Regions from separate parts of the Homo sapiens genome. Here all the other regions are linked to region 2. Evidence: fine-mapped expression QTL. A gene starts in region 2. Each other region holds a variant in brackets. All regions are shown on one strand. Distances are from middle to middle.

Region 1 (2,656 bases), 32 kb before region 2:
ATAAAGATGTAATTTTCCCCTCATCCAAATTCCTAGGCCCCCGAATGCAGCCTGGAACCCCAATTAAGAATCGCTGCCAGCATCTGGCTCCGTTATGGACACAAAATCTATGGCTGTTAGGGCCAGGGAGCCATGGTCCTGCCTCAGGAGTCTAGATTCACCTTCCTTCCCATTCCTGCCCGTTTCCTCGCCCCACCATCAAACACAAGAGCAGTAGGGATTTGCACCAGAAACACTTGATGGCATATTGTGGAGCATGGTTTGCATGTTCTGATTTTATTTTAAGAAGTAAAAGTGGCCAGGAGCAGCGGCTCATGCCTGTGATCCCAGCTGCTCACAAAGCTGAGGCAGGAAGACAGCTTGAGCCCAGGAATTTGAGACCCAGCCTGCGGCTATCAACATAGCAAGCCCCAAATATAAGTAGGTAGGAGATGGCAACTGTTATAAAAGAACCATGGCTCCTCTCCACGCTGGCATCACACACTGGCATGTGACCTTGGCTACTAAGTTAGCAGTGTGAAGGCCAACAGGGACCAAAGTGGGGGTGACCCTGGCAGAGGCACTGTACACATGGCCCTGAGGGAAAGCAAACATCCGCAGTGGATGAGGGGAGGCACAGGCAGGTGGTCAGAGTCCCATGCTGCCAGCCAGACTGGGCGTGCACCTGCATCTACCCCAGACCCTTGGCAGCATCACCTCCACTCTCTGGGCCTGAGTTTCCTCATCTGTAAAATGGGCCCAATAATTCTTACTAGCGATGCTGCTGTGAGGATTAAGTGAGATAGGGGCTTAATAAGGGAAAGACCAGAGGGGTGTGGCTAATGCCTTGCAGCTCTTCAATAACTGTGAGTCCCATCTGAATCTACCGATGAGAAATCAGCAGTGGTGAGCAGGAAAAGTGGGGAAAGGAGATTGGCAAGCTCTAGACTGTGCCAGGCTTTGAATGCCAGGTAAGGAGCTTGGAGTTATCCTGGGGACGGTGGGAAATTGTGAGCATTGGTCTGGTTGTGACCTGGGAGGGGACACAGGCTCTCTCTGGTGTAGGATGCCTGAAAAGACAAGGGCTGGAGGCCAAGTGATAGCTGCTGGGGGACCCAGGGAGCCATCTCAAAGAAGAGAGATGGGGTCAGACGTGGTGGCCCATGTCTGTAATCTCAGCACTTCAGGAGGCCGAGGAGGGAGGATTGCTTGAGCTCTGGAGTTCAAGACCAGCCTGGGCAATGTAGTAAAGCTCCATCTCTACAAAAAAATTAAAAATTAGCCGGGTGTGGTGGCATGCTCCTGTAGTCCCAACTACTTGGGAGGCTGAGGCCAGAGGATCACTTGAGCCCAGGAGGTCAAGACTGCAGTGAGCTGTGATCACACCACTGTACTCTGGCCTGGTTGACAGAGGGAGACTCCGTCTCAAAAAAATATATATTTTATATAAAATTTATATATATATATT[G/A]TATAAAAATTATTATATAAAAATATATATAATACACACACACACACACACACACACACACACACACACACACACACACATATATATGTCGCCCAGGCTGGAGTGCAATGGAGCAATCACAGCTCACTGCAACCACCATCTCCCAGGTTCAAGTGATTCTCCTGCCTCAGCCTCCTGAGTAGCTGGGATTACAGGCACTGGGCCACAACACTGGCTAATTTTTTTGTATTTTTAGTAAAGACAGGGTTTCATCATGCTGACCAGGCTGGTCTCCAACTCCTGACCTTAAGTGATCTGCCTGCCTCGGCCTCCCAAAGTGCTGCGACTACAGGCATGAGCCACTGTGCTTGGCCTTAAACAAAACAAAACAAAAAAATTAAAAAGGAGGGAGATGGGAGAGAAGGGAGAAAGCAGCAAAGGAGACACTGTGGGCAGGAGGAGGATGTGATGTGGAGAGAGCCCCCTACTGTGGTCCTCACACATGACTCACTGGCTGGACAGACAAATCATAGCTTCTCTTGGGGTGGGCTTGCTGGTCTCAGCCGTCAGATGGGGAGACAGAGAGAAGGAAGGGACAGAGTGGTGGGGGAGACCCTGGCCACCCTAGGGAGAGCAAAAGGCTTGCCTGGCAGGGCAGGAACAGGGTGAGGCAAGCAGGGCATTGTCCTTGAGCACAAAAACTCAAGGGGGTGCCAAAAAACTCAGTAACCAAGATCAATAATGTTTCAATGCAATCTTTTTTAGATCAGTGGAAAAAAATCCATGACAAACAAAAAATATAAAGTGTTTAAATAGGACAAGTGATGTTGCGCTGTGCTAAGCCACACTGGAGCCAAGGCAGAAAGAAAAAAATCAGTAATACTGATCCTGACATTATTTACAATTTTTATATGTTGTTTTTCATGGATATTTTTGCATTTAGATTGTTTCATAACAGCTTTACTGAGGGACAATGCACATATCATATAACTCACCTATTTAAAGTGTACAGTTCATGGGCCCGGCGCGGTGGCCCACGCCTGTAATCCCAACACTACGGGAGGCCGAGGCAGGCGATCACCTGAGGTCAGGAGTTCGTGACCAGCCTGGCCAACATGGTGAAACCCTGTCTCTACTAAAAATACACAAATTAGCAGGGTGCAGTGGCAGATGCCTGTAATCCCAGCTGCTCAAGAGGCTGAGGCAGGAGAATCGCTTGAACTTGGGAGG
Region 2 (2,682 bases):
AACTGAGACTAGATCGGAAGGAAAATGCGTCGCCCGGGCCACATCACTACTAAATCCGGTGTGTCACAGATCTGTTCAAATCCAGAAGCCTACCCTCGCCAGCAGACCACCCTGCTGAGATGAAAGGGTTATCACATGGAGGCTAGGGAGAGGTGTCCACCCACAGCCCAGTCTGGCAGACAGACATGCAAGGGAATGTCTGTTGGGAAGTGAGAAAAAGGGCTGGCTAACTCTGTGGGGTTCAAAACAGGAAGCACCCAACAATACCAGGAGAATGCCAGGGAAGGCTTCCCGGAGGAGGTGCTGCTTGAGGGGGCTTCTGTAGGATAAGTAGGAGTTCAACAGCCCGCCTCCTCAACATCCCCAAGGACATTAAGTCAGGAGGCCTGTGAGTGAGTTTCAGCTCTGCCACATCCTAGCTGTGAATCCTAGGGTCACGGGCAGGTGACCTCTCCAAGCCTCAGTCTCCCCATCTGTAAAAGGGGAAGGGGGCAAGAGGTTAGGCACGGTTCTTTCTAATGACTCTGCTGAGGTGGATGGTTCCTTCCCTAGGGAACGGGCCTTTGAGTGGGAATGCCAGACCTCGACCTCTGTCCCATCTAACAACGACTCTGCCAGGTCAGGCGTGCTCAGCCTCTGAGCCCATGCTCCCAGTCCCCTGCTACCAGTCCCAGTCCCGGCTTTCCGGGCACCTCCCATCCAGCTCACACCGAGAAGCGGAGTTTACGGAGGGAGGTTGGGGGTTGGGGTGGGATCCTCGGGTCAAATTCCTCTCCACTCCTCACCAGTGACCTCCAAGTTCACTAGGGCTCCCCAACCCAGTGCTCCCAGCGCCCACCTCCCCAGCCGACGATTTCCGCCCCCAACGCCTCCACTTCTGACGCTCCTCGCAACTCCACGGCTGCTGCAAGTTAACTTCCACGCGCCCTGGCGCCCGCCTGGGGGTCCCCGCGCGCCTGGGCGAGGTTGGGGACTCCGGAGGCGGGGACGCGCCGCCCTCCCCCCCAGTCCCCCCGCCAACAGACGCTGAGCGTCTCCCAGGCGCTGGGTCCGAAGCGGGAAGCGTGGTAACGGGGGCCCGGTGGATGCCGCACCCCGCGGAAAGCGCTCGGGACGCCGAGCGGGTGCGGATCCCAGAACCGCGCGCCCGCGCCGCCTGCCTGCCTCCCAGATCCCAGCTCCCAGCCCCGGAGCCCGAGCAGTCGCGCCGGGCCCGGAGGCAGCCGCCAGGACGGAGGGCTGCCAGGCGCCCGAGGCCGACCCGCACGGCCCCCAGCCCGCGCCCCCGGTTGCAACCCGAGGCCACCCCCTGCCGCCCCAGGGCCACCTACCGTGGCGAGACGCGGCGAGGCAGCCCCACGCACCCAGCGACTCCCGGCTCTCCAGCCGCCCCAGCCGGGGAAGGGGGAGGTGCCCGCGCGGGGGCGGGGCCGCGGCGACGTGACGTACGGGGGCGGGCCCGATACGCGGCCCCGCCCCGCCCCGCCCCATCCCCTCCACTGCGCCTCGGGACCGCGAGGTGAGCAGAGGCTGGTCGGGAAGTTTCCCGGAGGCTCGCCCCGGGAACCCCGCCCCGCCGCCCTGGAAGCCCCTGTCTGCTCGCTGGCTTACCCCTAGGACGGGCAGCTCACCACTTCTCCCGGTCAGTTCTGTTTAAGAGAAGTTCCTTTCTGCCTGTAAGCAATGAAGTGGAATGATCACCAAAAAGTGGTGTAAGAAAAGAAAAGTAGACCCGCAGCGGGGTGTATTCGTGCTACTGTTTGTGTAAAACACAGAAAAAAGAAAGGGGTGGTCTGATGTATAGTCATACACACCAGTGGTTTTGGAGGGAGTTTTTGTGGATATACCACATTCTCTCCATTTATCAGGGATTTTGCCCTGACATCCCTCCACCACCACGACATTTGGCAATCTCTGAAGACATTTTTGGTTGTCATAACTGGGGAAGTGGAGAGGCGATACTGGCATCTAGTGAGTAGAGGCCTGGAATGCTGCTAAACATTCTGCGGTGCATAGGACACCCTTTCCACCCCCAGCCCTGCCACTACCCCCCCAAAAAAAACCCTGCAAAAAATGCCGAATAGCGTAAAGGTTGTGAAGCCCTGATATACACAAATGAAACAAAACTCCTGACTGATAAATCTTAGCACAGTCTAAGTTCTATAACCTTTCAGTGCTTCTGCTTCTTCATGTGTAAAATTGGAAAAATAATAGAGCTATCTATGCATCGTATGCTTGTGCATTGAATACCTGAAGAAAAGGTAGGGTAGGCATGCAGGCTTACTTTTCATTGTGAACTTTGGTTCTTTGTTCTCTTTTAACTTTCTATTTGCCATATGTATATATTATCTGTTTAAAATAAATTTCTGGGTCAGGTGCATGGCTCACACCTGTGATTCTAGCACTTTGGGAGGCGAGGCGGGCGGATCACTTGAGGCTAGGAGTTCAAGACCAGCCTGGCCAAAATGGTGAAACCTCGTTTCTAATAAAAATACGAAAATGACTTTGGGAGGCCAAGGTGGGTGGATCACATGAGGTCAGGAGTTCGAGACCAGCCAGGCCAACATGGCGAAACCCTGTCTCTACTAAAAATACAAAAATTAGCCGGGTGTGGTGGTACATGCCTGTAGTCCCAGCTACTCAGGAGGCTGAGACAGGAGAATCGCTTGAACCTGGGAGGCA
Region 3 (2,682 bases), 67 kb before region 2:
TTCACAATATTAATAGTAATCATTATAGCTACCATGTATTAAGCCTTCACCATGGGGCTGTTAAGTCTTCATTGCTTAGCTTTACTAAACTAGATAATGTGTTTGCTTATCTCATGGATTTCTCTTAACCATCCCCTGAGATCCCCCTATAGTTCTTATCCCTTTACCCCCATTTTACAGAAGAGGAAAACTGAGGCTCAGAGAAGGGGAGTCACTTGGCCACAGTCGCACAGTTGGAAAGTGGTAGAGCCAGGATGAGACGCTAATTCTGACTCCAAAGCTAGTTATATATAATAATAGCACCCAAGTAATGTATAGATTACCATGTTTTCACATATGGCAAATTAAGGAATCAGAATGAATGATGCATGCTGCCCAAGCTGGACAGAGGATGGGCCAGGGCACAAGTGACGGCTGACCCACTGATCCATGGAACCCCCAAGAAAGGCTCTAGAACAAAGCTCTGATTTCACAGTGAGATTAAAATTCTGCCCAAATCAGGGTACATGGGTGGAATTAATCAAAAAAGTTAGTATGTATGCCTTTCACCCCAGCAATTCTACTTCTCATTTTGCAGAGACTCACTCATACAGTGGCATCAAGAGGTTATATGTGCAGGAGAACGTCCACTGCAGCTTTGCCAGTAGCGATGAAAACTGCTAACAGCCTAAGGGCCTAGCCAAAGTGGAATGCTCAAAAAAGATGGTTTGCTCTAGAACAGGCAGCTGGTAAAAGGAGTGGTGTTAGATCAGCACATGTTCACATCAGAAATGCTCCAGGAGCCAGGTGCGGTGGCTCACGCCTGTAAACCCAACTCTTTGAGAGGCTGAGGAAGGATTGCTTGAGCCCAGGAGTTTGAGACCAGCCTGGGCAACATAGTGATTCCCCTCTTTACAAAAAATAAAAAGTTAGGTAGGTGTCATGGTCCAGCTACTCAGGAGGCTGAGGTGAAAGGACTGCTTGAGCCCAGGAGTTAGAGGTTGCAGTGAGCTGTGTTTGCAGGAGTTAGAGGTTGCAGTGAGCTGTGTTTGCAGGAGTTAGAGGTTGCAGTGAGCTGTGTTTGCAGGAGTTAGAGGTTGCAGTGAGCTGTGTTTGCAGGAGTTAGAGGTTGCAGTGAGCTGTGTTTGTGCCACTGCACTGCAGCCTGAGCAACCAAGCGGGACTCTGTCTCC[A/AAAAC]AAACAAACAAACAAACAATCCTCCAGAGCAATCTGTTAAATTACATTTTGGAATAACCTATTCAAAATGGTTTTTTCCATACGTCTTTAAGATGATAATATTTATATGTTCAAAAATTTAAAGTCTGGAAGACTATGTACAAACAGAAAATGGTAGCATTACCTTTAGGAGCTATTGAGAGGAAGTACAAATAGAGCCACTTGCCTTCTTACTATCAATTCTGATTGTCCCATGTTTTATAATATATTCATGTAGTACTCTAAACAAAATCTTTTCAGATCAAATCAGGGGAGATGAAATGAGAGTGGATTCTGAGCCTAGTTTTTTTCAGGGAACAAGACCCAGTGCTACCACTTAGGGGCTAGAAACAGAAATTGTATTTATTTTATTTTGTTTTATTTATTTTATTTTTGAGATGGAGTCTCACTCTGTTGCCCAGGCTGGAGTGTACTAGCATGATCTTGGTTCACTGCAACCTCTGCCTCCTGGGTTCAAGCAATTCTCCTGCCTCAGCCTCCCAAGTAGCTGCAACTACAGGCATGCGCCACGACGCCCAGCTAATTTTTGTATTTTTAGTAGATGGGGTTTCGCCACGTTGGCCAGGCTGGTCTGGAACTCCTGACCTCAGCTTATCTGCCCACCTCAGCCTCCCAAAGTGCTGGGATTACAAGCATGAGCCACCGGGCCCGGCCTCTTTATTTTCTTTCAGTGTTTTCCCAGGAAGTTCTCTGAACATCCAGGGTCTTCACAGATGGACTTCTCATAAAAGGTAACTCCTGGAACCAGACATAAATTTTTTTTTTGGGGTGTGTGGTGATGGGATACATAGCTGTCGCCAGATTCTCAAAGGGACAGTGTCACACTTAACAGAGCAAGGAGAGTAATCGGTGATTGGTGAATGATCATTTATCAGAGACTGTGTGTCAAACATTTAAAAAATAAAAAGTAACTGCTGAAGAAATGAACAAAAAGGGTCACACCTTCAAAAAAGCCTAATTTCCATTCCAGAGCAATCTCAAGACAAGGAAAAATAAGAGCTGCTTCACACTGAGGGCTTATCTGGTATCAAGGACCACCGCCAATGTCATCCATTAGCCATCCCCAATAAACCCATGAAGTTCAGCCTGAACAGCATAGAAAGACCTCGTCTCTACAGAAAAAAAAAAATTTAAAAAGTAGCCAGGTGTGGTGGCACATGCCCAGCTACTCAGGAGGCTAAGATGGGAGGATCACCTGACCCTAGGAGACCGAGGCTGCAGTGAGCTATGATCACGCCACTGTACTCTAGCCTGAGTGACAGAGCGAGATTCTGTCTAAACACACACATACACACATACACACCATGAAGTTTTAACTTCCCCATTTTACAGATGAAGAGACAAAGTCTCAAGCCATACAGCCAGTAGGTCAGCCTGACTCCAAAAACCCATGCCCCAAGCCACAATAAGTCACTGCCTTCCAAAAGCCTCATATTATCATGAGATATAAGGCAAGGAGGTATGGGTAAAA
Region 4 (2,682 bases), 20 kb before region 2:
TGGTCTAAAAAGGTGAGGAACCCTCAGTTCTGGGAACTGCCCACACCTTTCCCCTTATTTAGCATATGATCAAGAAATAACCATAAATATAGCCAACCAGCAGTCCTCTGGGAGGCTCTGTCTATGCAGTAGCCATTCTATTGTTTGTTTACTTCCTTAGTAAACTTGCTTTCACTTTATGAACTCACCCTGAATTCTTTTTTTTTTTTTTTTTTGAGACGGATCTCGCTCTGTCTCCCAGGCTGGAGTGCAGTGGCCCGATCTCGGCTCACTGCAAGCTCCGCCTCCTGGGTTCACGCCATTCTCCTGCCTCAGCCTCCCGAGTAGCTGGGACTACAGGCGCCCACCACCACGCTCAGCTAATTTTTCGTATTTTCAGTAGAGACGGGCTTTCACTGTGTTAGCCAGGATGGTCTCGATCTCCTGACTTCGTGATCCGCCCGCCTCAGCCTCCCAAAGCGCTGGGATTACAGGTGTGAGCCACCGCGCCCAGCCTCACCCTGAATTCTTTCTTGCACAACGTCTAAGAACCCTCTCTTGGGGTCTGGATCGGGACCCCGTTCCAGTAACAGTTCCATGGATACAAAGTACAAAAACAGGTGAAATTCTAGGGGGAGATGTCAGGATGGTGGTTACCCCGGTGGGGCAAGGGGTAACTGCAGGGGGAGCAAGGTGTCCTGGGGCAGGGAGGGGTGCTATGTACGTTCAGCTATTGATCCAGGTGCTGGTCACACAGACACATTCGTCTTTTGAAAATTCATTGAGCTGTATGCGTATGAAATATGCATTTTTCTGTATACACGTTAGACTTGAATAAAAATAGTCTTAACGAATCACACTTTCAGCAAGCTTGGTGGCTCACACCAACACTTTGGGAGGCTGAGGCAAGAGGATCACTTCAAGGCCAAGAGCTGGAGGCTGCAATGAGCCATGGTTACACCACTGCACTCCAGCCTGGGCAACAGAGAGACTTTGTCTCCTAAAAAAAAAGAAAATTAATGGCCTGGCACGGTGGCTCATGCCTGTAATCCCAGCACTTTGGGAGGCTGAGGCAGGAGGATCACCTGAGGTCAGGAGTTCAAGACCAGCCTGGCCAACATGGTAAAACCCTGTTTCTACTAAAAAATACAAAAATTAGCCGGGCGTGGTCGCAGGCACCTGTAATCCCAGCTACTCGGGAGACTGAAGCAGGGAGAACTGCTTGAACCTGGGAGGTGGAGGTTGCAGTGGGCCGAGATCATGCCACTGCACTCCAGCCTGGGTGTCAGAGCAAGACTCTGTCAAAAAAAAAAAAAAAAAAGGAAGAAAGAAAGAAAAGAAAGAAAAAGAAAGAAAGAAAGAAAGAAAGAAAGAAAGAAAGAAAGAAAGAAAGA[A/C]AGACAGAAAGAAAGAAAGAAAGAAGGAAAGAAAGAAAGAAAGAAAAGAAAGAGAGAAAAAAATTAATTAATCACACTTTGTCAAATGCTGAGGAATGGTGTTGCTGGCTGGGGTATGCTACCCGCCCCACTCCACCCCACACACTTTTTTTTCCCGGCTGCTGCAGAGGAACACACAAGACTCTTTGCATTCATTCAATCAACACTTGCAGGACGGCGCTCTCCCAGGGCTAGTCGGTCCTGGGCGCCAGGAACTTCAAGGACAATTGAGCTTCAGCCTCTGATCATGCCACCCACACCCCGGCTCCTGGCATGGACACCTCCCAGACCCACACTCAATAAATGAGCAGCCAGGCCACGGTGGCTTTTGATCAGATGCCAAGGAGGTTATGTCTGCTTGTCTTCCTCTTTCTCTACAGCCCCATGAAAACGTTTACAGGGTTTTTCCTTATGCGGGGCCAAACCCAGCCATTCTGGCACAGGTATCAGGAGGTCACACTTGGCTACTGTGGCCCTCTCTCCTCCCTCCAGTTCAGGAGATACTAGCGCCCCTGGATGCTCCCCACAGGCTGACATCTCCTGAATTGTCATCTTGAACCCAAATCTCTCTCCTCACTTGGACACAGTTGCCCACTCTCTTCCTCCCTGCACCTGGGTGTTGAGCCTGGTCCTTTCCCCAGCATACCCCACCTGCAGCTGGTAGCAGCAGCATACCCCACCTGCAGCTGGTAGCAGCTCCATCCTTTCATGCTGGTGCCAAAAACCTTGAAGGCAGCTTTGATTCTTCTTTCTCACCCTAATCCAATCCAGCAGCAACTCCTGTTAACTTCACCTTTAAAACAGAGCCAGAATCCGCCATTTCTCACCACCCGCACTGCCAGACGTTTGTTTCAGGCGTTCACTTCTTACCACTCTGGTCCAAGCCACCTCATCACTAGCTTCCCTGATTCTGCCCTTGTCTCATCAGTTGATTTTCAGCAAGCAGCCACAGTGACCTTAGGAAAACGGAAGTCAGGCTATGGCCCTCCTCTGCTCCGCATCCTCCCATGGCTCCCACTTTACTCAGGAAAAACCAGTCCTCATTTGCCTTACAGGTTTGACCCCACCCCTTACCTTTCTGCCCCCAACCCCACTGGCCCTTGCCTCTTCTCCAGCCACGCTGGCCCCCTTGCTGTCACTCAAACACACAAGCACCCTCCCTCCTCTGGGCCAGTGCCCTGGCTGTGCCCGCTGCCCGGATGCCCTTTCCCCAAACATCCACTTGGCTCACTCTCTCACCCTCCTGTCCTCTCTCACATCGCACTTCTTC

Alleles and levels. Alleles are on the strand shown, and positions count from the first base shown. SD is a standard deviation of normalised expression in the study named. Not every link is listed here.
For the expression in monocytes after interferon gamma of the gene that starts at base 1,411 in region 2, allele AAAAC in region 3 goes with a lower level than allele A (moderate effect, 0.47 SD a copy in Fairfax 2014).
For the expression in monocytes after LPS of the gene that starts at base 1,411 in region 2, A is the low allele of the variant in region 4 and C is the other (moderate effect, 0.59 SD a copy in Fairfax 2014).

What was found. PIP is the estimated chance that this variant, and not a neighbour inherited with it, causes the effect.
Region 1: its variant is the best candidate, but not a certain one, in a credible set for the expression of TPST2 in whole blood (INTERVAL, PIP 0.56).
Region 3: its variant is the best candidate, but not a certain one, in a credible set for the expression of TPST2 in monocytes after interferon gamma (Fairfax 2014, PIP 0.72).
Region 4: its variant is the best candidate, but not a certain one, in a credible set for the expression of TPST2 in monocytes after LPS (Fairfax 2014, PIP 0.80).

Annotation. Positions count from the first base shown.
Region 1 is chr22:26,556,641-26,559,296 of GRCh38, forward strand. The region is part of intron 1 of TPST2 (tyrosylprotein sulfotransferase 2); the gene reads right to left. Among named protein-coding and RNA genes, the nearest start is that of MIR548J, 2.6 kb to the left of the region's middle. RefSeq lists an enhancer at 1-116. The variant G/A (reference allele first, on the strand shown) is at 1,448.
Region 2 is chr22:26,588,722-26,591,403 of GRCh38, forward strand. TPST2 (tyrosylprotein sulfotransferase 2) reads right to left here and starts at 1,411. Exons shown (of 7, transcript NM_003595.5): 1 at 1,332-1,411. It also overlaps a transcript of CRYBA4 not described here. RefSeq lists enhancers at 609-1,109, 1,626-1,765 and silencers at 956-1,135, 1,146-1,515.
Region 3 is chr22:26,522,018-26,524,699 of GRCh38, forward strand. TPST2 (tyrosylprotein sulfotransferase 2) reads right to left here. Exons shown (of 7, transcript NM_003595.5): 7 at 1-2,682. Among named protein-coding and RNA genes, the nearest start is that of TFIP11-DT, 11 kb to the left of the region's middle. The variant A/AAAAC (reference allele first, on the strand shown) is at 1,173.
Region 4 is chr22:26,568,668-26,571,349 of GRCh38, forward strand. All of the region lies in intron 1 of TPST2 (tyrosylprotein sulfotransferase 2), which reads right to left. Among named protein-coding and RNA genes, the nearest start is that of MIR548J, 15 kb to the left of the region's middle. RefSeq lists enhancers at 1-142, 143-666. The variant A/C (reference allele first, on the strand shown) is at 1,374.